Homo sapiens: one gene and its partners. The protein of the gene in region 3 purifies or fractionates together with the protein of the main gene of each other region. This does not show direct contact. Each region holds a gene or a part of one and is shown on either strand. Other genes may lie near its edges.

Region 1 (3,500 bases), about 130 Mb from region 3:
ATTTGTTCCCCTACGTGATCTGCCTTGGGCACTCCTCCAAGGGGTGTTCCAGCACTGCCCTGGGCCCACGGACCGGGTCAGAATGAGCCAGAGTGCCCAAGGCAAGCCCAGGCTACTCCCAGGATAACACCTGTTTTGCTTTCGTATCCAGACCACGGAGCCCAGCATCGGAGAATGTCCACTGGGTAGGTGAATGAATGAATGAATCAGTGAATGAACACTTCTAATGCGTAACTCCCATGTCCCGACTTCATGGTCATGTTTAATGAACTGTGCACCTGCACACAGGAGCGCTCAGGGGCACACGCGCCCCCTTCTGCTCCCCGTTCCATCTCTGTCCCTGCCCTCTCCTTTCCTCGAGGATGGTGATCTGGGTGCCAGGGCCCTGTGGTGGACAGGACAAGGCAAAGGTGACCCTGCACAATGGGGCTTTCAGAGGACTGGGGACACCACGCCCGCAATGGCCAAGGACAGGGGCAGAGTCACAGGAGGGAGCCACTGTTGGAGTGTGGCCAGGGGGCAGGGGGAAGGGACCCTCATTCTGAGCACCATGGCATCCAGGCTGTGCCAACGCCCCACAAATGCCACCCCGCTTGGTGGGACTCACCCCAGCAGACAGGAGTTAGCAGCTCCAGTGCACAGGTGCGAACATGAGGCTTGCAGGAACCCTCGGTTCCCCTCCCCACATCCTCCCCGGGAGAGCTCGGTAGGGACGGGGCTGAGGCAGCAGCCTGGGCCTCAGTTTCCCCTCCTGCCTGAACCTCCAGGGAACGTTCCTGTGGGTTCCCTCAGCCAGCAACCTGCAGGGGACCCCAGAGCAGGCCCCGGGACTGTCCTCCTGGCCCCAGGCCCAGAGTTCCCTGCCCACGGCCCAGATGGTCAGGCCAGGCACCCCCAGGCTTGGGGAGGTCCCAGAGCCTCCTGCAGGGAGGGGGATGTGCAGCCGTGATAATGCCAGCACAATGGACCCAGGCCTGGGCTGTAGCTATGGCCCTCCCGCCCAGCCCTGGTCACCAGCTAGACCCTGGCAGGGTACAGAGCCCTGGCTGCTCTTTTGTCAAATGGGAGCCATGCGCAGTTGTGTGTGTGTGTGTGTGCGCGCGTACGTGTGTGCACGCGTGTGTGTGTGCGCGCACGCGTGTGTGTGTATGTGGGGGGTGGGCTCTAGCTGAGTAGGTGCCAACATCCCTGCAAGACGGGCATAATCATTAGTGTGTAACTCAGGGTCACGCAGCCCAGCGGAGGTGATGGGAGATGAGGGTCAGGGTCCCCAGGCCTCTCCTCTCCTCTGCCACCCAAGGCCAGTTCCTCGGGGTGAGCACTCCTGGGAGCACAGGCCAGCCCCTGACATCACCCACTCTGGCATCACCCGTGCTCCAAATCCCAGTTCACAGCGTGTCCACGCGATGCCCGCACCCCACACTCCCGATTTCGCTGCTGTGCCAAATATTCCCTCACTCGCTAAGCCGGGTAGTCACCAAGACTGTCGCAGAGATGGGGGATGCTCTGGCACCCACGTGGGCAGACAGAGGGCAAAGTGAGAGCCGAGGCTCAGGGTCCACACCCACGACCGCTGGGGCCAGGCAAGGGCAGCAGGGCTGAGGCTGGTGGTGGGTGCAGGAAGAGGACACCAGAGGAGGCTTGGGGGAAGTCTGGGCACCATGGGAGGTGCTGAGGCTGTTTACAGACCTTTCTGTAAAATGTGGGGTGGGGGCCCAAGGGTGTCCCAGACAGGCTATGCTGGGTTCTGGCACATGTGAGCCGTGAGCCTGGACCATGTTACTTCCCCACTCCATGCCTCGGCCTTCTGGTCTGTGAAATGGGCACACAGCACCTCCCTCCGGGCTGTGTGAAGATTCCCAGTGGCGCGGGCCTTACCCACAACTGACATGCAGGGCCGCAGGGTGGGGCGGGAGAGCTGCTCTGAGCCCAGGTATGGGGTGTGAGGCTCAGGTGCCCTGGGTGGTCGTGGCAGGATGGGAGCTGAAGTCCCATGTTGGCACAGGCTGCACTCCAGGACCCCATGGTGTGTGTGTGCGTGCACCTGTGCCTGTGCACCCCTGTGCATGCCTCCCCAGTGTGTGTGGGAGCACGGTGGCACACACACTGTGCATGGTGAGGGCACAGGCGCCCAGGGCTGGGAGCTGCCCATTCAGCTGAGTCCCCTCGGTCCCTGACTGGTGTGGATTCGGGTGCGGGAACACTGGATTTCTGGTGAGTTGTTTCTCTGAAAAGCTGTCTCTGGGGACTCACAGCCCTCAGATGTAGCATGCTCTTGCTCTGTGGGGACAATGTAATGAAGGAACAAAAATAAGCCCGGATGTCTGTCAGACAGCAAACACCTCAGGGGCCTGACTCTCTTCCTGACGTCCCTCCCTGCCTACCCCAAGGACAGGGGAGCCGGCCGCTCCCAGACCCACCAGGAACCCGCGGGAGCTCCACACGCTCCCTGCATCTCAGAGCCTCCATCCGCTCGACTGAATTTGCAAAAAAAAAGAAAAAGCAGACAACAAATTCATTTTACAGAACCTAACCCTCAGACGGAAGGAATTTCACATCAGAGCCACGATCATTCATGAACCCACATCGGCTGCCCACTGTGGTGTCCAAGAGGGGAAAGGGGTGGGGGGGCCAGGAGGGTGTGCACACACCTCTATTCACGCAGACACTAATCTACACACACGTGAGTTCATGCACGTGTGTGCACACTCCCATATTCAGACACGAATCTACATGCACACACCCGCGAACCTACACACACCCCTGCACAGTCCTCTGTTCACACAAGTGGTAATCTACACGCACACACGTGAACATGCGTGCCTGCTCCCATATTCACTTGGACACCCATCTGCACCCAGAGCCACACGCAAATGAAGATCTGAGAATCCCGTCTCCTGGAGGAAGCCGGGGTGCCGGATACCTGAGGAATGGGCCCTGAGCCCCACTTCTGTGGGCACCCTGAGGGGTTCTGTGCCAAGATGACCCCACTGTTTCATACCAATCCATTCTGGGGGGTTCATCTCCCCAAGAACACAGCTCTGAAATGCTAATGGCTGTCAAAGGGAAGCAGGACTTGCTTCGCACAACCTTCCTCTCCACAGGACGGCCTCCCTCATTTCCTAATGAATATAAATAGGAAAATGGGTTTTGCCTTACAGAATATTTTTCTCTATAGGAATGTAGCTCCAATTTCTAAGCACTGTCAAAACAGAAGTTACATCCTCTCTGTCTCTCCGCTGCCAGCGTCGGCACCCAGTACGGGCTACCCTCATGGCTTTCAGACGTCGGCAGTCCCCTGGGTGGCTCATTCCCTCGTGTGCCCTTAAAAACCCTTTCTCCGTCGACATCAGAGGGATGCTTTAAAGCCAGCCTTGTCTCTCAGCTGCTGCAAACTCCCCAGAGACTTCCCGAAGCAATCCGAGTACCAACCAACTCTTCCCAAGAGCTCCGACACAGGAGCAGCCCGGACCCTGGGGCCTCTCCCGCTCACCTCTCAG
Region 2 (3,052 bases), on a different chromosome or scaffold from region 3:
TCACTGGGGCGCGTGGCAGCGTTCACATACCTTTTCGTGCCACTGGAGTAACACTGCGCTGCTATTTTCTGTGGGCTTCTCAAAGCCTTTATAAATGTACTTCATTAACAAGTCAACGCCGTTTCTGTCCAGTGACTGCACAGCCTGCTCAATCTCACTGCTCTTGAAGTTTGTGAGCACTTTCAGCACCACGCCCTGGGCTCGCTCCTGCAGACGAAAAAGAGCAAGTGAGTCCCAGAGCTGCGAAGGCACCGCCATGCCATGCCCCACACCAAAGCAAGGACACAGATCACCAGAAACACTGCCCAGTTTCTAATTCGTCCAGGATGGTTAAAATAAGTGGGTTAGAACGTCTTTTGTGGATTTAAATTTCAAAGTATCTTTTATTTATGCCAACAAGTTACCCTACTTATTTTGGGGGAGTAAGTAGTTTACTAGGACAAGTATCAACTCTGAGAGAGAGAGAGAGAGAGAAGAGAAAAGAGGGAGAGAGGGAGGGAGGGGCAGGGTCTCGCTCTGTTGCCTGAGCTAGAGTGCAGTGGTGCAATCTCAGCTCACTGCAGCCTCTCCCAGGCTCAAGCAATCCTCCCACCTCAGTTAGGGCTACAGGCACATGCCACCATGCCCAGCTAATTATTTTTTTTATTTTTTAATACAGACAAAGTCTCGCTATGTTGCCCAGGCTGGTCTCAAACTCCTGAGCTCAAGCGATCCTCCTGCCTCCCAAAGTGCTGGGATTACAGGCATAAACCATGGCACCCAGCCCATCACTATTTTAGATGACACCAATAAGGCCTTATTATACTCCACAATGGTGGTGGACTATTAAAAAATAAAAATAAAACCAGGTTGACTCGGCTGCAGCGTCCCTCTTGTGTTCACACCCAGAAGGGTGGGGCCATTCCCCAGAACTCTGTGAAGGTGCAGCCACTGGTGACATCAAGATGCTGTCACAGCTGCCAGAATCCCAGCTGCAGGGAGACCCCTTTCTCTGAACCAAATTTTAGACTTGGTGATGCAGTAAGCACAATTTAGTTTTTAGAAGGTAGGAAAGCGTACGGGTACTTAAAATCCTCAGGCAGACAAAGCCTATTTAACAGTCTGTGGGAGCATAAGCACCACAGGTGAGCGAATTCATCCATTTTCCTCATCAGCCAGGGCCAGGCTGACTTCTCAGCCTACGAGGCCGTGAGCAGGAGTGAAGGCTTCTGTGGGGAGGTTCTCGTATATAAACGCTGACAGCGTTGATGTCAGAGAAGCCTCACCACCTAGGGAGCGCCAGGAGGCTTCCCTGGAAGCCCCGCCCAGTGCCAACTCACTCCCTCTGATGTGGATGAAAGCTCACACTCGCACTGGGCAGACACCCACAGCCCTGGTCCCAACAGCACCCAGCAGAGCCGCAGCGCCACCCCTTTACCTTCACAGCTTGATTCTTGGTGTTGACGGGAGAGTTCCGCAAGGCTGCATGGAATGCCCGAAGCATGTCCCCTGTGCATCACCACCAGTTAAGGATAGCTAGGCTCAAGCACATCCATGCCGTCATGAACAAGCTCACTTCAGAAACAGCTCAGGAACAGAGTCAGATGGGATCTCATCCATACCACCCACCTTCCACGGCTTCCAGGGGGGCAGAGACGGTTTACAGCCTGCACAGGGAGGCTGCAGGGCACCTCTGCCAACCATGCAAACCCTCCTTTCAACTCCCTCTCTACCTTCCACGTCAAAGCAACTGTCCTGGAGGGGTAACTTGATGTAAAATTGGATTGTGCTCACTTGCACCTGCTTGGTGCTGAGCACTGTATCTCCCCTACTGGATCCTCACAGCACCCGTACATGTGAACTGGAGGTCGTTCTCATCTTCTCATTCTAAAAAAGCGGAAAATGTAGGTACAAAGGGAGACCTCCTAACTCTTCATCAATGCTCTTCATCAATTAAACTATTAAGGAAATTAAGATGTGCTAGAACTTCTAAGATCTATCGGGATCAATGAGGTCCCAACTGTTACCTGGAAAGAGTTTATCAATCTAACAGAAGCTTTTGCCAACAATGAGCCAGTCTCCACCCTTACCCCCCAACCTCAGTTGCAATCCTGACAACACATTCTTTGCTGAGTTCTGAATACCCAGCATGCAAAAGAAAATTACAATCTGGGTTAGGTCCCCAAAGGTGACACCTATTTTAAACTGAATTACATCAGCCAACTTTCATTTCCTCGTATGAAACACTGGCTTCAGCCAAAAAGCTTCAAAAATAGAACAAGGAATGGCTTCTGCCCAATCGGGTCTCTACTCCTCTTCATGCAGTGATACCCACGTGCAGACAGGAAGGGCCTTCGGAGCAGAGCTGAATCTCCTGGCTTCCCCAGTATGAGATCCATCTTGAGTGAGCTGGGTCTGCGCCACCAGGCAAGCCACTCCCAGCGCTGGTTCCCCAGCTCCCTGCTTGGCTCTGATCCACCTTCCACACTCAAGAGGCAGTCCAGTCCCTCTGTCTTTCAGTTCTGGAGTTCCTTTTCCCCATCCAAACAAGGCCAGCCTGATATCAGCCACTGATAACCTCTACTTTGTAACTCCTTTTTTTTTTTGAGACGGAGTCTCGCTCTGTCGCCCAGGCTGGAGTGCAGTGGCGCAATATTGCCTCACTGCAAGCTCCGCCTCCCAGGTTCATGCCATTCTCCTGCCTCAGCCTCCTGAGTAGCTGGGACGACAGGCGCCCGCCAGCACGCCCAGCTAATTTTTTTTGTATTTTTAGTAGAGGCGGGGTTTCACTGTGTTAGCCAGGATGGTCTCGATCTCCTGACCTCGTGATCTGTCCGCCTCGGCCTCCCCAAAGTGCTGGGATTACAGGTGTGAGCCACCGCGCCCAGCCCTTGTAACTCTTTTCTAATGTGGTGTCCCCAAAGCAATAAGCAGGATCCCATAGGCTGAACAGAAAACATAGGCTCACTTGCTCTTCATGTAAACCTGGCACAACTAACAAATGACATCATTCAAATGATGGATGGGGAAGGGCAGGTATAAAACTAGTCCACGGGGGCAAAAAGCTACTGCT
Region 3 (3,500 bases):
AACAGTAACTCATACTCAGACATTAAGTTACAATTTTCTAAAAGACAAAGTTGGTTTGATTTTTGTTTTTTAATTAAACAAATATCTGAGAATGAAAATAAAGAGGGTGAAGGACACCTCGGGAAATCATAAACTTTATAGGGATCCAATGTGCCGTTTATTAGCCCATCAAAGACTTGGCTTGTGCCAGGTCAGTAGGGCACAGATAGTTTTTAAAAATTAAAAGCAGTAGAGATGAGAAGAGATGAGAAATCCCCCCATGCTATGTTCTTCTGGTAGCAAGATAATGCAGTTCAAGTTGGGTCTTGCAGTACTTGGTACTTTTATGCAAAAATGATGCTTTGTAGAATGAGGCACCAACTGTTATTCAATTAAAAATGTATGAAATCAGGCATTTAATGAAATTTTAGAGGTAGTAATTCCATGGTTAGCTTTCAGAAGATGTATTAATAGTTCAATATAACTTTACTCATAACTGAGCCAGAAAAGAAAAGAATTAGCCTTTATAAAGAATGTCATTACCCACACTAGACCCCTGAGAGGTGGTACCTTACCCAAGCCTTTCCTTGCTCTCTTCTGGTGTCAGCTGATCAAAGGTCTTTGCTTCTTCAGCACCCAAGAAGGCATCATGGTCATAATCAAAACTCTGAGCATCATTGTGAACCTTGTCACTGAGCTGAGGCTCATGATGTACACGGTCCTTCTTTTCTGTGGGTTTGCTCAAGGCAAAGGCTGTGCACAGGGACAGGCACATAAGAAACTGTCGCAGGTCCATGATAATTAGATCTTGAAGAAAATGAAAAGCAGTTAATTCAGGAGGCAGTATGCTTAATAACTAAATAAGAAATTAAAAGCTCACATCCGAGTTAAACTATTAATTTGATATACATATCTATGCAAGTCTTTTATATTATCCCAAATATTACTTCATCCATAAAATAAGTATGGTGGAATATCAGACTCTTCAATTATTACAGTGAGAAATTTTTACCAGTTTCCTTCATCTGATTGTAGGCTGATAAGAAACTTATAGTTAAAATGTCCACTTTCTGTTTTCTTTCAAAAGATACCAAAGTAGAATTTTAATCCTTTTGCCCAAGTTCATAAGAATTAAAAGTGAAAGAACCAAGGTTTAAATGTTGACTCCAAATCCTTTACTTCTTGTACGCATTGGTGGTCTGGTCTTCAAACATGGCTGGTTATTAGAATCATCTAGGAAGCTTTAAGTTTCTCCTATTGATTTAGAGTCTCTGAAGCTGAATTCAGACATTCGTAGCTTTAAATGTTTTTCAGGTGATTCTGATGTTCATGAGATTAGGAACCAGCGAAATACTTGGCAGCTTCCTTGGTCTATAGCACCAAGTCTCCAACATCCAGGCTCAACCTTGAGTCACCTTCAAAGGCCAAATCATTCAGATGGTCTAGTCATAGATAAGAACGTCTTTATCCTTCTGCACAGTTGTTTCCCATACTTGCCTAGGCATAAATACCACCTGTAGTACTGTTCAAAGTACAGATTCCCAGGCCCTGATTCAAACTTTCAGAATCTCTGTAGTCACAGGTGACTCTAATGAACAAGCACAAAGCTGGAACACTTGACTGAAAAATGTGACAAAAAACCTGCAAAGAAGCTGCAGAGTACACATCTGTTTAGCACACTCTACTGATACCCCGTGATACTATCCAGAGTGGTTAAGGTCTTAGAGGGAAAAAAAAAAATTAAAAATCAAGAAGAAGGGTTTTCAGGCTTTTACATTTTTTCTTTCATCACTGGGAAGGCAGCTCAGTGGGGGAGGGTGGGAGGTCCTGAAATGGCAGAGGAGGACATATCAGTAGAGAGTGGAAAGTGTTCTAGAGTAAATACGACAACACAGTAAGACAAACAGAAAAGTACCTAAGGAGATAATGGGGGCGGGGGTTGGGGGGCAGTCATTCCCAAGTGCCCCAGTCTCAAATAAGGTACTGTTACTGATGACGTGAAGGTTAAGACTTAGGAAAATCCATCAGAAGAAGCAATGTGAAAGCAAGACCATGAAACCCATAGAGAAATGGGTAGAAGATGGTACTTATTACTCTATTCCTATCAATGTTAGAACTTGGCTATGTTTCTCAACATTGTTTCATTCAATCCCATCAAAATACCCACATTTACAGACAAAGATACTTGTATTAAGATGTTCAATGATGACAGTTCACAATGATTAAAAAATCGGAAAACAAATAAAAACAGAGAATTGGTAAAATATATTAAATCTCGATTATGGAAAAATACACAAAGGTTAAAAAGAATGGGCCGGGCGCAGTGGCTCATGCTTGTAATCCCAGCACACTGGGAGGCCGAGGCGGGTGGATCACAAGGTCAGGAGATCGAGATCATCCTGGCTAACACGGTAAAACCCCGTCTCTACTACAAATACAAAAAATTAGCCGGGCGTGGTGGTGGGTGCCTGTAGTCCCAGCTACTTGGGAGGCTGTGGCAGGAGAATGGCGTGAACCCAGGAGGCAGAGCTTGCAGTGAGCCGAGATAGCACCTCTACACTCCAGCCTGGGCTACAGAGTGAGACTCCGTCTCAAAAAAAAAAAAAAAAAAAAAAAAGAATGACATGAGGCCGGGGGTGGTGGTTCACGCCTGTAATCCCAAGACTTTGGGAGGCTAATGCAGGCGGATCACTTGCATCCGGGAGTTTAAGACAAGCCTGGGTGATAGCGAAACACTGTCTCTACTAAAAATACAAAAATTAGCTGGGCATGGTGGCATACACCTGTAGTCTCAGCTACTCAGGAGGCTGAGGTGGGAGGATAGCTTGAACCCACCAGGTGGAGGTTGCAGTTAGCTGAGATTGTACCACTGCACTCCAGCGTGGGTGACAGAGATCCTATCTCAAAAAAAATAAAAAAAGCAGCCAGGCATGGTGGCTCATGCCTGTAATCCCAGCACTTTGGGAGGCCGAGGCGGGAGGATCACTTGAGGTCAGGAGTTCGAGACCACCCTGGGAAATACGGTGAAACCCTGTCTCTACTAAAAATACAAAACTTAGCTGGGTGTGGTGGCACACGCCTGTAGTCCCAGCTACTCAGGAGGCTGAGGCACGAGAAGTACTGGAACCCGGGAGGCAGAGGCTGCAGTGAGCTGAGATCTCACCACTGCACTTCAGTGACAGAGCGAGACCCTTCCTCAAAAAAAAGAATGTAAAAAAAAAAAAAGAACGAGATGCATCTATCTGCAGTGAAATGGAAAATTCACCAAGATATGTCAAGTGAACAAAAAAAGCAAGGTTCAAAACAACGTCAAGATCTCATTTACATAAAAAGCAAAACAAAATTAAACAATCTCCCCAGCTTGTTTTTATTTGTATAAAATATAACATGCACATAAATGGTGTGCAAAGACAAATACCCATGTGTAAACAGTGGTAACCTCAAGGTTCATGGGAGAAGAGACAGGAATGGGGTGGGCTGGTAAGATTGGTGTGAAAGTGAACTTTAATACTGTATCCTGC
Region 4 (3,500 bases), on a different chromosome or scaffold from region 3:
GCCCAGCTAATTAAAGTGATATTTTTAAAGAAAGTTTGTTTTATGAGAATCAAATGAAAATCAGAGTTCCATTTTTTTTCCCCAAAATACAGCATTTTTGAGGCTTCCCTGACAAAATAGCCTTTCCCATCTATCTTAGTCCTGGCCTTCAACTGTCTTGTATTTTAAACCACAGCCTATAATTAAAGAACTTGTTCTTTTATGATAGTTCCAAGGAATTAGAAACAATTTTACTCTTATAAAAAGAGAATCTGATATAAACACAGATAAGAAATAGTATCAGTTAAGATGAAAAAGAGGTTGAAAAGTGGCAGCAGTATTCCATTCCACAACCGTCTCCACATGAAATCTTAATAAATCTGTGTGAACAATGACAGGCGCCTCATATAAAACCTTGCTATTCCCATCAAAAGAAAAATTAAAAAATAAAAAACCAATGGGCATGTTTTAAATAAGTGGCATTGAACAACTGTGAAGAAGGCCACAGCCAGCCAGCTTACTCCCTCACACAAGTCACCCGATCTCTCTGGGGGTCAGGTTCTTCATCTGAAGAGTAAAAGCTACAAGATGAGCTGAGGTCTCTAGCTTCCCACTCCAGAACTTAGGATTCTTGGGCTAAGACTTTTTGAACAAAAAGTTCCTACACAGAAACAAACAAGTCACCTAGGCCAGAGCAGTGACTCTCGCCTATAATCCCAGAAGGATTATTTGCGAGGCTGAGGCAGGAAGTTTCAGGCCAGGGGTTCAAAACTGGCTGGACAACATGGTGAGACCCCACCCCTACCAAAAAGTAAATAAATAAATTACCCATAATAGCAGTACGCAACGATAGATAAGCACTGAAATAAAAATAATGTTTTTATTTCCTTAAGTCTTTTTTGTTCTTTTTATATATTATTTATTTAATTTTTTGAGATAGCATCTCACTCTGCTGCCCAGGCTGGAGTGCAGTGGTGCAATCTAGGCTCACTGCAACCTCTGCCTCCCCGGTTCAATCAATTCTCCTGCCTCAGTCTCCTGAGTAGCTAAGATTACAGGCATGAGCCACCTTGCCCGGCTAATTTTTGTATTTTTAGTAGTAGGGGTTTCTCCATGCTGGTCAGGCTGGTCTCAAACTCCTGACCTCAGGTGATCCGCCCACCTTGGCCTCCTAAAGTGCTGGGATTACAGGCGTGAGGGACGGCACCCGGCCTTCTTTTTATATTTTAAAAGTAAACCTCCTTTTAAAATTTTTCCATGTCACTGAAATGATGTTGAAGAGTGAATATTCTAAGAGCTACACAGAGATTTGTAAACAGCTGAACCAATTTTCTGCTGGATTATTAGGCTGTTTCTAAATTTTTACTAAGTTACAATAATTATAAGTAGTCTGTGCAACAGTCAATTTCTTTAGTGTAACACATGAACGAAAAGCTATACACTTTTTTTTTTTTTTCAGACTGGGTCTCCCTGTCACCAAGGCTGGAGTGCAGTGGCGCGAACACAGCTCACTGGAGCCTCAACCTCCCAGGCTCAAGCAATCCTCCCACCTCAACCCTCCTGAGTAGCTGGGACTACAGGTGCATACCACCAAGCCCGGCTAGCTACACATTTTTAAGGCTTTAGGTATTAAACACCAAAATGGCCTTCAATAATATTATACTGATTTATATTCTCAACAACTATAAAAAAGAAAGTTCTATGATAAGAAAACCAAGCTAAGATGACAAGTACCACGGCATCATTTTGGCAAAACCAAAGGGAAAAGGATGAGTAAAAAGAGCCCAACTGAGCTTGGTTACAAGAATTTCACCTGCAGGTAGCAGGAACTGGGAGAAGGCCAATTTTAGAGAGCAGCTGAATTATCAGATGTAAAACAGTCTTGCATATGAAGGAATGCTGTGGCCCACTTCAGTGTGTCCAGTGTTTTCTGGAACAAAGTAATAATAATTACGTTTCATTTTAAACAGTCTCCTCTCAAATATCACTCACCTCTCTAGCTGCCAATACAATTGTAGTTAGTTGAGAGCGATCACCCCATTCTGCTAAGAATGTTAATGTAAGAGCTTGAACAAAAATGGGTGAAATAAAATGCAACCACTTTTTCTGAGGTACTGTTATGCTTGTACCCGTTTCAACATCTCCCGGTCCATTTAAAAGTTTGGTTCGTTGAAACTAAAATAAATAATAAACAAATGAAAGTAAGCACAGGAAGCAAATCAAAATAGCACACAAATCACTTGACTTTTCTAAGTGTTTAAATTCTATGAAATATGCTCCAAAAAAACTACATTTATGTGACCCCCAAACCTCCCCTCTGAACCACTGGTCTCACACAGCAACAAATGCTATAGTCTCAATTCTTCCGTTTCTCCTCAGCTGAACAAACCAAACAGTATTTACTGCTCTGCTCACTTACTATCCTAGACACCACGGGAGAAACAGGTAAAATTATAAAATACAGTTCCTGCTTTTCAGGAGCTTATAATCAACCTAATTAAGGAAACTGATTACCTGTGTTCAGTATTCATCTGTCAGCTTCCTTTCTCTACTACATTCACACCAACCCCAAGTCAGATCACAGACAGGTATAAGAACAGAACAAAGCAAAAGAAGCTATTTTTGTGTAGCCCCGCATATCACACAGATGGGGCCACTGAGAAACCTCTGTAGAGTGTTTATTCCTAGTTGAGTGCCTTTTTGGTCCAGATCAACAGTGCCATGGCTTACTTCTTCATCTTTCTTCTTTAATTCAGCTTGAACTTCTTCCAGTTCCTCTTGACCCTCATCAGGGCTCATCTTTAAGCCTTCCCGAAGCATTCTAATGCCAAAAATGGCAAATAATACAGTTGAAACATAGTATGTATAGACCCTGGGGATGACTGTGGTGGCATAGCCAAACAAAACTGGAAAAAATACAACAGTATGTTTGTTAATCGAGTGTGTATCACGACCAAGGGAACAGTTAACTTCGGAAATAATAATTTATCACTGTTAAAAGAAAAATGGTTCACATTAGAAGCTAATCTAGTATGTAATAACCTCAAGTATTTCCAGATCTTTCTCTCCACCAATAATAAACCATTAGGTCTAGCCCAGGCCTAACACAGCTTACTCAGAAGCCAATGGTCCAGTTGAAGATGGCACATCTTCCTGAGAGATGTTAAGTAAGATATTGAACTCCTTTCCAGGCATGTTCAGTCAGAGGCTGGCTTGCCTTATGTTGTGCAAGGCACAGTACCTGGGGTAGAAGTTAGCTCTGAGGCCCTCTCAAGAGCTGAGATTTTATAACTGGGAAGCCATGCCACTTGCATAGTGGAATTTCTTCATCACAAATCTTTAAATCACAAACTTCTAGTGAAGAATCATGACAAAAGTCTCACATAGCAAGATTTAAACTCTGCTCCCTTGTAACTATTTAAAATAAGTACGTTTTATGAAAAAAATCTAAAAATTTCTTATTATATTAAAATAATGTTACAACAGGCTCAAACATTCAGTTCCACTCTTTCCCACTGATA
Region 5 (3,500 bases), on a different chromosome or scaffold from region 3:
AGCTCACTGCAATCTCCATCTCCTGGGTTCAAGCGATTCTCCTGCCTCAGCCTTCCGACTAGCTGGGATTTTAGGCACACGCCACCACACCCAGCTAATTTTTGTACTTTTTAGTAGAGACGGGGTTTTACCATGTTGGTCAGGATGATATTGAACTCCTGACCTCAAGCGATCCGCCTGCCTCGGCCTCCCAGAGTGCTGGGATTACAGGCGTGAGCTACTGTGCCCGGCCCAAACATCTTTCCATGTCAGTAAATATTCACCTATTTACAGAGACGCCTAACTGGTGCTGCTGGCTGATTCTGCTCCCCAGTCCCTCCATATTATTTCTTTTCTTTTCTTTTTTTTTTTTTTTGAGATGGAGTCTTGCACTGTCGCCCAGGCTGGAGTGCAGTGGCATGATCTTGGCTCACTGCAAGCTCCACCTGACAGGTTCATGCCATTCTCCTGCCTCAGCCTCCCAAGTAGCTGGGACTACAGGTGTCTGCCACCACGCCCGGCTAATTTTTTGTATTTTTAGTAGAGACGGGGTTTCACCATGTTAGCCAGGATGGTCTCCATCTCCTGACCTCGTGATCTGCCTGCCTCGGCCTCCCAAAGTGATGGGATTACAGGCGTGAGCCACCGTGCCCAGCCCATATTATTTCTTTAAATGTCTTTAGAAAGAACGCGTTTACTGGTTTACCACAATCCCCATCCCTCCCTATTGCTGATTTCACCACTCTCATCAACCACCTTGTTTTTCTAGTTTCCATCATATGGATGGATGCACTGTAAATTTTTTGTTTTCTTTTTTTGAGATGGAGTTTCACTCTGTCACCCAGGCTGGAGTGCAGTGGTGCTATTTCACCTCACTGCATCCTCGCCTCCCAGGTTCAAGCAATTCTCCTGCCTCAGCCTCCCGAGTAGCTGGGATTACAGGCATGTGCCATGCCTGGCTAAATTTTGTATTTTTAGTAGAGACAAAGTTTCACCATGTCGGCCAGGCTGGTCTTGAACTCCTGACCTCAGGTGATCTGCCTGCCTCAGCCTCCCAAAGTGCTGGGATTACAGGCGTGAGCCACTGCACCCAGCCATGTATTTCATTAGACTGTCTTCCTGGACATGTAGGTGGTTTGTAACCTTGGTGAATGGAGGCAGTGGTTTCATCTCTTTGAAGCAATAGACTTTCTGAGTGCAGATAAGAGGAGCGTTTCTAGGGAAGATGGCTACATGGCCACACCAGGAGTCAGCACTCTGGTGACAGTGATGTACCTTGGATCTCTGTGTCCCCAGCTGGAATTAGAGAGAGATTTGGACAGGCTTGTGGCTGAGGCATGTCATCTTTGGACGATGGCTCTGTACTTGGGATTGATTGAAGGTGAGGAGAGCATTGGAGCCCTGTTGAGAGTTAGACACCGGATGCTGGTGATGCCTGAGAAATGAGATGGGGCTCCCATTTCCCAGGGGCTTGGAGTCTTGGGGACAGGACGAGGAAACCAAGGACTGTAGACCGGTTCGTCCGGATGCTGGGGGAGGGGCACCTACAGCACACCCAGGTCTGGGCAACTTCCCGGAGGAGGTGGCCTCAGGCTGAGCTCTGGAGAATACACGGATGGAGAAGGTGGAGGAGAAACAGGCATCCAGACAGAGGAAAGAGCGGGTGCCAGAGGACGAGACCTCAAGTGTGATCTGTTAGGGACTGAGTAGCTCCAGGGAGCTGGACTGAAAGGGACTCACGCGGGGTGGGGAAGGGCCAGATGGAAACGCTCAGGGCTTACTCCCTCCTTTACTGGCATAGGAAGCCCTTGGAGCCAGGGGTGGCATTCAGATTTGCGTTTTTCAGAGCTGCCTCTGGAAGCAGCGTGGGAGACAGATGGGAGGCAGAAAACCAGCCAGGGCTGGGGAAGAAGTGATGGAGAGGAGAGGAGACCTGCAGGGGGCTGGCGATGGATGAGATGTGGCGGGTGCAAGGAAGGTGGCATCCAAGTGGCTTGCAGGCTTCTGGCCCGGGACCCCGCGTGATGGCATGCATAGCTTTCACCAAGCTGCAAGCCACAGGAGGAGAAGCTAATGTGGTAAGGACGGGGGAGAAGGATATGAGTTAATTGGGGGCTTAAAAGCCTTAGGGCAGAGCAGCCTGGTGCGGTGGCTCACACCTGTAATCCCAGCACTTTAGGAGGCCGAGGCGGGTGGATCGCTTTGAGGTTAGGAGTTCGAGACCAGCCTGACAAACATGGCAAAACCCCATCTCTACTAAAAATACAAAAATTAGCTGGGCGTGGTGGTGGGCACCTGTAATCCCAGCTACTTTGGAGGCTGAGGCAGGAGAATTGCTTGAACCCAGGAGGCGGAGGTTGCAGCGAGCCAAGATTGTACCATTGTACTCCTGCCTGGGTGACAAGAGCAAAACTCTGTCTCAAAAAAAAAAAAAAAAAAAAGTCTTAGCGCAGAGCAAAGAGGAGGTGTTCAGCAGATGATTGCATATGTGGGTCTAGACCAGCGCTGCCCAGCAGAACCTTCAGCTGTGGTGCAAGGTGCTAAGAGCTGTGCTGTCTAGTATGGCAGCTGCTAGTCACGTGAGCACTTAAAATGTGGCTCCTTGGCCGAGAACTGGATGTTTCATTTTGTTTAACTGACATAGCTCCATGTGGCTCGTAGCCACTGTACTGACTTAAACATTTGCAAGCCCAGGTCTCAGCAGCCAGGTCAGTGGTGGGGACATGGAATGGGGCATTGTCAGCTGAAGATGTGGTGTGGACCAGGACAGGCAGAAAGAGGTCAGGCACGGTGGCTTCACGCTGATAATCCTACCCGCTTTGGGAGGCCAAGGCTGGAGGATTGCTTGAGACCAGCCTGGGAAACATAGTGAGATCCTGTCTCTAAAAAAAAAAAATTTTTTTTTTTAATTAGCTGGATGTGGTGGCATGTGCTTGTAGTTCCAGCTACCCGGGAGGCTGAGATGGGAGGATCACTTGGGTCCAAGGGTTTGAAGCTGCAGTGAGCCATGACTGTACCACTGCACTCCAGCCTGGGTGACAGGAGACCCTGTCTCCTAAATAAATAAATAAATAAATGTAGAATTAGGAGCAAGAGGAGCTGAGAGCTGAGGAACAGCCTGGGAGAGCACCTGTCTTTGGGGGTTGATCAGGAAGGCTAAACACTGGGAGACAGTGTGGGCCAAACCCCATGGCTGAAGAAGAGGGCAGTCGACATTGGCAGATGCTTACAGTGCGCACGAAAGAGGAATGCAGAAGGGTGTTGGGTGCCACGAGGGTCGTGGGTGATCGTAGCCAAGCAGTCGGGGCGGGGCCAGCAGGAGGAGGGCCAGTGGGATGCTGTGCTGATTATATTCCTGACCTAGAAGCCCCAGGCTGGGGATAAAGCCCTGTCTTATGCCAGGCTTCCTCAGGAGCTGCCTGGAAAATGCTGGGGCTTGTCCAGGCCCCAGACAACCAAATACGTTTGTGCTGCTTGTAAAGGGCTGGGTGCGACGGGGCACCAGGCCATAGAATTCCCAG
Region 6 (3,320 bases), on a different chromosome or scaffold from region 3:
GAGCTATTTACCAAGCCTATTTAAACTTGTGAGTTTTAAAAATGAAGCAAACTCTTTCCCTGAGATAAGCTTTTTACTTCTTTTGCAAGGTAGCTATTTCAGTAATATTTGGTATGGCACTATAATGAAATCTGTCAGGAATTAGAAGGATGAGTACTTTACTATAACTGAAAAATGAGCATGTTTGAGAATTTCTGATAACACTAATGAGTTAGTGTTTCAAATGAAAATAATTAAGTCAACAAAAAGAAATTCTTCTTGGATCAGTCTTCAGGACTGAGTAATACTGATAAAGAAATATCACTTGAAAGGAGCTTTTTGTCTTTAAATGAAGATAAATTAAAAGGGTAACTAGGATTTGCCACCTGCAATACTGATACCTACTAGCACAGAATCAAAGCTAGAGTATAAAAGAAAATTCTCTATAAGTCACTGGGCAATTTTTAAGAACTCATTTTTTGGGGGGAGCAAGAAAAGTAGTCAGACAAATCAGTCCAAGGTGAGGTATCTTTGGAAAATTTAATTTGGACCATATTTTCTTCCTCTTTCTGAAAACATCAAATATCCCCATACAGTTTGGGTTCCACAGCTTACAAAGGGGCAGTGGGTTTCCCGCAGTTACATACTGTACCCAACTTTCTATAGAAAGATAAAACATTTTCCAACCTTGCTTTTGAGTATTTCCTAAAAAATGCTTTAAAGTTTCCTTACAATAAATGGCAAGTAAAACAAAGTAAGGCTTTTTTTTTCTCCTTTTCCCCTTTTTATGTACTGCATGTTCGAGGAATAAGGAAGGAAGACTAGTTCCATCAGAGTACTAGTAATCCTAGTACCCTGGGGATTACTGCTGGATCCTCCCAGGTATACCCCTATTATTGAGGCCCTGATGCACCCCTGCACTGAGGAACCTGAGAAGGGTAAGTACTAAACAGTCTGTCATAGCCACGTGGGACTGTCACAGCACAGGTGGGACTGGGAGTCGCCCAGTTCTTCTCGGTGCTCACAGGAGTAACAAAGGAACTAGGACTAAACCATAACCAGAGGTCTCCCACGTGGTACTACAGTACCACACGTTCACTTTTGTGGCCCTTACAAATGCACATTTATAGACCCAATGTATTTACTGGAAAAAAAAAGAAAAAAATGCCTTTACTAATTTCTGTATCAAATTATTAGAATGAAAATAAAAGCATTTGTCTGATAAAACACACTTTCTATGTTAGATGAAAATAACTCCCTTGCAAGATAAGCTTGGTAATGTGTATTTGTCACTATTTATATATTTTTGCTTAGTACACACATTTCTTTAATAGCATCATCTGAACAGCTTTGTCATTTTTCAAACCTGTAGTTTCATTAGCTTAAAAAAAGGATAAGGCAGCCAAATTTAATGAATTTTGGTTGCAGAAAAACATCTCAGGTATTAACTCTCATCTTCAAATATTAAGAGCACATAATTAAAAGATAAAGTTTCTTCTCTTAACAGGAAACTAAGCAGCTATTGTCATCAAATGTACTTTTACATGTACTTTTTAGTGAAGGGCCCCCTCATAAATATAAAATTAAATTCTTTTGAGGAATAGGTTTGTGATTTTAGTTATGCAGGATTTACATTTATCCTTTACATTTTGTAGTAAAAAATGTGTGGTCTTTGCTTATTTTCATGAAGTGATTTCTTCATCTCAGCAGGCTCTCACATACAAACGGCAGGCTGGGTTACTCAGCTTGTTTCTGAAAGGGGAGGCAGCCACATGTCATGTGCTCTTAGAATCCTTGCAAAAACTCCTGTAGCTGGGTGACAATCTCCGTATCCACTGTTTCCATGAGGGACTGGAAACCTTGTTCTCCTAGCATCTCCTGCTGTGCCTTGAGCTTCTCGTAGATGAACTGCTGCAGTGACACTGTATGAACAGGGTCCTTCAGGGCCAGCTGTGGGATACAGAGAGGAGCAAGACTGTCAAAAAAGCAAAACAAGTCTCTCCTACCTGCAATTTACAAAAGTTCTTTGTAATCTCTTCTACAGTAACAAAATTGCTTCTGCCTCTCTTCTCACACAGATTCTGTACTAATCTCATGGTGGAAAAATCTGTCAAAGAAAATTTCATTCAATTAGTCTTAACTTCAGTTCCCTAGCGCCCCCTGAACATGTTTTCTGATCAGGCATTTCTCAAGAGCTGGGGGACTCATTCATTTAAAGCATCAAAGCCTAGTAGAAAGCATTCTAAAAGAAACAGAACATGCTGAAGAACATTTAAATACAATTGTCCAGCATTCTCCTTAGGAAGATAGGGTAGGGTAGGCCACTGTGGCAACCCAGTGATGCCCTCAGGATCGAGAAAGGAGACAGTGTTTGCCCTACCCTGGATTGCAATACTATTTAAATTCCTGTATATGCTTCTGGCTGAAAAAAAAAAAAAAGGGACTCCTCGTCTCCCACTGGGATATTTGGAAAACAAAAGGAGTGTAATTTCATGAAAAATAACCCAGAAGTCCACTCCTTAAAGATAACAATGACAAAAGAAAATATTTTGGCTTCTTCTATCCCTGTGGTATGCACATACATACATATACATAAAACACACCTGGACCCAGGCTAAGTGCAATGTGTGATATACCCGATTGAATCCTGCAACCAAGAGTGTTACCGGAAAAACTGGTAAAATCTAAATAAAAGTCTGGAGTTTACTTAATAATAATGCACCGATGTTGGTTTCTTAATTTTGATAAATGTACCATGTATATTTGGAAAATGTAGGGCCAGGCTCGGTGGCTCATGCCTGTAATCCCAGCACTTTAGGAGGCTGAGGCAGGCAGATCACAAGGTCAGGAGTTCGAGACCAGCCTGGCCAATATGGTGAAACCCCGTCTCTACTGAAAATACAAAAATTAGCCTGGCGTGGTGGTGCACGCCTGTAGTCCCAGCTACTTGGGAGGCTGAGGCAGGAGAATCGCCTGAATCTGGGATGCGGAGGTTGCAGTGAGCTGAGATCGTGCCATTGCACTCCAGCCTGGGTGACAGAGCGAGACTCCGTCTCGAAAAAAAAAAGAAAAAGAAGAGGAAAGAAAAATGTAACATACAATGTTAACATTAGGAAAAACTGGGTGAGGGGCACATGGGAACTCTTTGTACTATTTTTGTTACTTTCCTGTAAACCTAAAAGTATTCCAAATTAAGAAGATTACTCTAAAAAATGGACTCAGCAATTAGAAAAGTATACCCCTCTGTGGCCATTTGGTATAAGGACAAACCACTCTACAACTGACATCTCATCTTATGTATTAGCTTATATAAGTGTCTAATAATAGAATTTCTAAGCAGC
Region 7 (2,486 bases), on a different chromosome or scaffold from region 3:
GGGTGGATCATCTGAGGTCAGGAGTTGAAGACCAGCCTGGCCAACATGGTGAAACCCTGTCTCAACTAAAAATACAAAAATTAGCTGGGCGTGGTGGCGGGCGCCTATAATCCCAGCTACTCGGGAGGCTGAGGCAGGAAAATCATTTGAACCCTGGAGGCAGAGGTTGCAGTGAGCCAAGATTGCGCCATTGCACTCCAGCCTGGGCGACGAGCAAAACTCTGTCTGGAAAAAAAAAATGGCCAGGCATGGTAGCTCACGCCTGTAATCCCAGCCCTTTGGGAGGCCGAGGCAGGCAGATCATGAGGTCAGGAGTTTGAGACCAGCCTGGCCAATATGGTGAAACCCTGTCTCTACTAAAAATACAAAAATTAGCTGAGCATGGTGGTGGGCACCTGTACTCAGGAGACTGAGGCAGGAGAATCGCTTGAGCCTGGGAGGCAGAGGTTGCAGTGAGCCGAGATTGTGCCACTGCACTCCAGCCTGGGCAACAGACCAAGAATCCGCCTCAAAAAAAAAAAAAAAAAAAAAGAATGAATGAGCCATACAGGGCATTTAAGTATACATTAATATTTGTGATGTTATAGGGTAGCCTAAAAATCTGTCACGGTTAGGGAAAAAATTCTTGTCCAAGTCAGATGCAGCCAACTTTGACTATAACAGTGAATAGAGGCAGAAGTGCCAGGTCCTGCCCTAGGAAATAGGAAAGGTTGTGGTCTGGGTCTAATATGGGAAATGCCTGGATCTCCAGCTTCTCATCTTTAAAATGGGGGTTCCTAACAAGACAGTCTGTAGAGGAGGAATAGTGTAGTGGTTAAGAGTACACACAGAGGCCAAGGTGGGTGGATTGCTTGAGGCCCGGAGTTTGAGACCAGCCTGGCCTACATAGTGAAACCGTGTCTCTACTAAAAATACAAAAAGTAGCTGGGTGTGGTGGTGTGTGCTGGTAGTCCCAGCTACTCGGGAGGCTGAGGCACAAGAATCATTTGAACCTGGGAGGCGGAGGTTACAGTGAATTGAGATTGAGCCACTGCATTCCAGCCTGGGCAATGGAGCGAGAGACTCTGTCTGTCTCCAAAAAAAAAAAAAAACAAAAAAACAGGGCACACGCAGTGCGATCATGTTACCGGGAATTAATCCCAGACCTACTACTTAGGCCTTTGAACAAGACATAACCAACCTTTATATAGTGCTTACTGCATTCCTAGCATTGTTCCAAGTGCTTTACGTATACTAACTTGCTTAATCTTCACAACAGCCTATGGAGTGAATACTGTTTCATCGGTCTCTAACAAATAAAATGCTAATGAACTTGCATAAGTTTCCTAGGTGATAGGTGACAGAGATGGGATTCAAACCCAGACATTCTTTGCCTCAATTTCCTCATCAATTACATACTACTACTACTGCTACTACTACTAATAATAGTGTCAATTTCATAGGGTAGTTTTGAGGATTAAAGAAAATATTACAAGTAAAATGTTTGCAATATGATCATGCCCATAATATTAGCCCTCAATTAATGTTATTTAAAAAAATTTTACTATTTGCATAAGTTCCTTGCAGCTTTAAAATTCTGTGATTTCCTGACTACCCAGGCCCTTGGGATAATAGTTGTTTTTTGTTTTTTTTTTTTTTGAGACAGTTTCACTCTTGTTGCCCAGGCTGGAGTGCAATGGCGCGATCTTGGCTCACGGCAACCTCTGCCTCCCGGGTTCAAGCAATTGTCCTGCCTCAGCCTCCTGAGTTGCTGGGATTACAGGTGCGTGCCACCACGCCTGACTAATTTTTGTATTTTTAGTAGAGAGGGTTTCGCCGTGTTGGCCAGGCTGGTCTTGAACCCTGACGTCAGGTGATCTACCCACCTTGGCCTCCCAAAGTGCTAGGATTACAGGTGTGAGCCACCGTGCCCAGCCGGGATAATAGTTTTGAAAATACAGACCGTAAGAATTGTGATGAAGTAAAACAGCTTGACACTGGAGTTAACCATGAGTTACCATGTGTTTTCAGGCACTGCAGATTCTCCATGTGTAATTAATTCTTTTTCCTTGCTTTGGTAGATTGTTGATCCATTTCAGATACTTGTGGCAGCAAACAAAGCAGTTCACCTCTACAAACTGGGAAAAATGAAGACAAGAACTCTATCTACTGAAATTATTTTCAACCTTTCCCCAAATAACAATGTAATGTGCACTTTCCTATTTCTGTTGACCGTGTCATAATAACATATGTGTTCCTCAGTGTTGGGTTGGAGGCTAAATTCCTGCAAGCCAGTGGTTAGTAATAAACCCAAATAATAGTGAAGAGAGCTCTGGACAGAGAGTTGAGGTTTAACCCTGCCTCTTACTAAGACAGTTTACATATGAGTAAACAAAAATTTAGCTAAATTAAGCGAGGTTAATTTTATCTGTTCTTACCATATAGGGTCAGGAAGACCCCTCAAGTATTTTTGCTTGAGAAGCTGACAGAAATCTAAATGATAAAAC

What was found.
Region 1: the proteins of CALU (region 3) and ELFN1 fractionate together in Homo sapiens (co-fractionation; one large-scale study listed by BioGRID). This does not show direct contact.
Region 2: the proteins of CALU (region 3) and ARPC5L fractionate together in Homo sapiens (co-fractionation; one large-scale study listed by BioGRID). This does not show direct contact.
Region 4: the proteins of CALU (region 3) and TMEM165 fractionate together in Homo sapiens (co-fractionation; one large-scale study listed by BioGRID). This does not show direct contact.
Region 5: the proteins of CALU (region 3) and C1QTNF1 purify together in Homo sapiens (co-immunoprecipitation; one large-scale study listed by IntAct). This does not show direct contact.
Region 6: the proteins of CALU (region 3) and IPO11 fractionate together in Homo sapiens (co-fractionation; one large-scale study listed by BioGRID). This does not show direct contact.
Region 7: the proteins of CALU (region 3) and TPRKB fractionate together in Homo sapiens (co-fractionation; one large-scale study listed by BioGRID). This does not show direct contact.

Annotation. Positions count from the first base shown.
Region 1 is NC_000007.14:1,676,777-1,680,276, reverse strand, and holds part of ELFN1 (protein ELFN1 precursor), read right to left. Parts: intron 1-3,500. UniProt on the Homo sapiens protein: Postsynaptic protein that regulates circuit dynamics in the central nervous system by modulating the temporal dynamics of interneuron recruitment.
Region 2 is NC_000009.12:124,872,130-124,875,181, reverse strand, and holds part of ARPC5L (actin-related protein 2/3 complex subunit 5-like protein), read right to left. Parts: exon of another isoform or gene 1,516-3,052; coding exon of another isoform or gene 1,496-1,515; exon of another isoform or gene 1,491-1,495; coding exon 1,418-1,490; intron 208-1,417; coding exon 31-207; intron 1-30. UniProt on the Homo sapiens protein: May function as component of the Arp2/3 complex which is involved in regulation of actin polymerization and together with an activating nucleation-promoting factor (NPF) mediates the formation of branched actin networks.
Region 3 is NC_000007.14:128,745,859-128,749,358, reverse strand, and holds part of CALU (calumenin isoform a precursor), read right to left. Parts: intron 1,807-3,500; exon of another isoform or gene 1,005-1,806; coding exon of another isoform or gene 992-1,004; intron 787-991; coding exon of another isoform or gene 776-786; coding exon 555-775; intron 1-554. UniProt on the Homo sapiens protein: Involved in regulation of vitamin K-dependent carboxylation of multiple N-terminal glutamate residues. Seems to inhibit gamma-carboxylase GGCX. Binds 7 calcium ions with a low affinity.
Region 4 is NC_000004.12:55,416,457-55,419,956, reverse strand, and holds part of TMEM165 (putative divalent cation/proton antiporter TMEM165 precursor), read right to left. Parts: intron 2,886-3,500; coding exon 2,710-2,885; intron 2,155-2,709; coding exon 1,972-2,154; intron 1-1,971. UniProt on the Homo sapiens protein: Putative divalent cation:proton antiporter that exchanges calcium or manganese ions for protons across the Golgi membrane.
Region 5 is NC_000017.11:79,030,669-79,034,168, forward strand, and holds part of C1QTNF1 (complement C1q tumor necrosis factor-related protein 1 isoform 1 precursor), read left to right. Parts: intron 1-3,500.
Region 6 is NC_000005.10:62,625,763-62,629,082, reverse strand, and holds the end of IPO11 (importin-11), read right to left. Parts: intron 1,930-3,320; coding exon 1,765-1,929; 3' UTR 501-1,764; downstream 1-500. UniProt on the Homo sapiens protein: Functions in nuclear protein import as nuclear transport receptor. Serves as receptor for nuclear localization signals (NLS) in cargo substrates.
Region 7 is NC_000002.12:73,731,860-73,734,345, reverse strand, and holds part of TPRKB (EKC/KEOPS complex subunit TPRKB), read left to right. Parts: intron 1-1,641; exon of another isoform or gene 1,642-1,645; coding exon of another isoform or gene 1,646-1,762; intron 1,763-2,060; coding exon 2,061-2,183; intron 2,184-2,486. UniProt on the Homo sapiens protein: Component of the EKC/KEOPS complex that is required for the formation of a threonylcarbamoyl group on adenosine at position 37 (t(6)A37) in tRNAs that read codons beginning with adenine.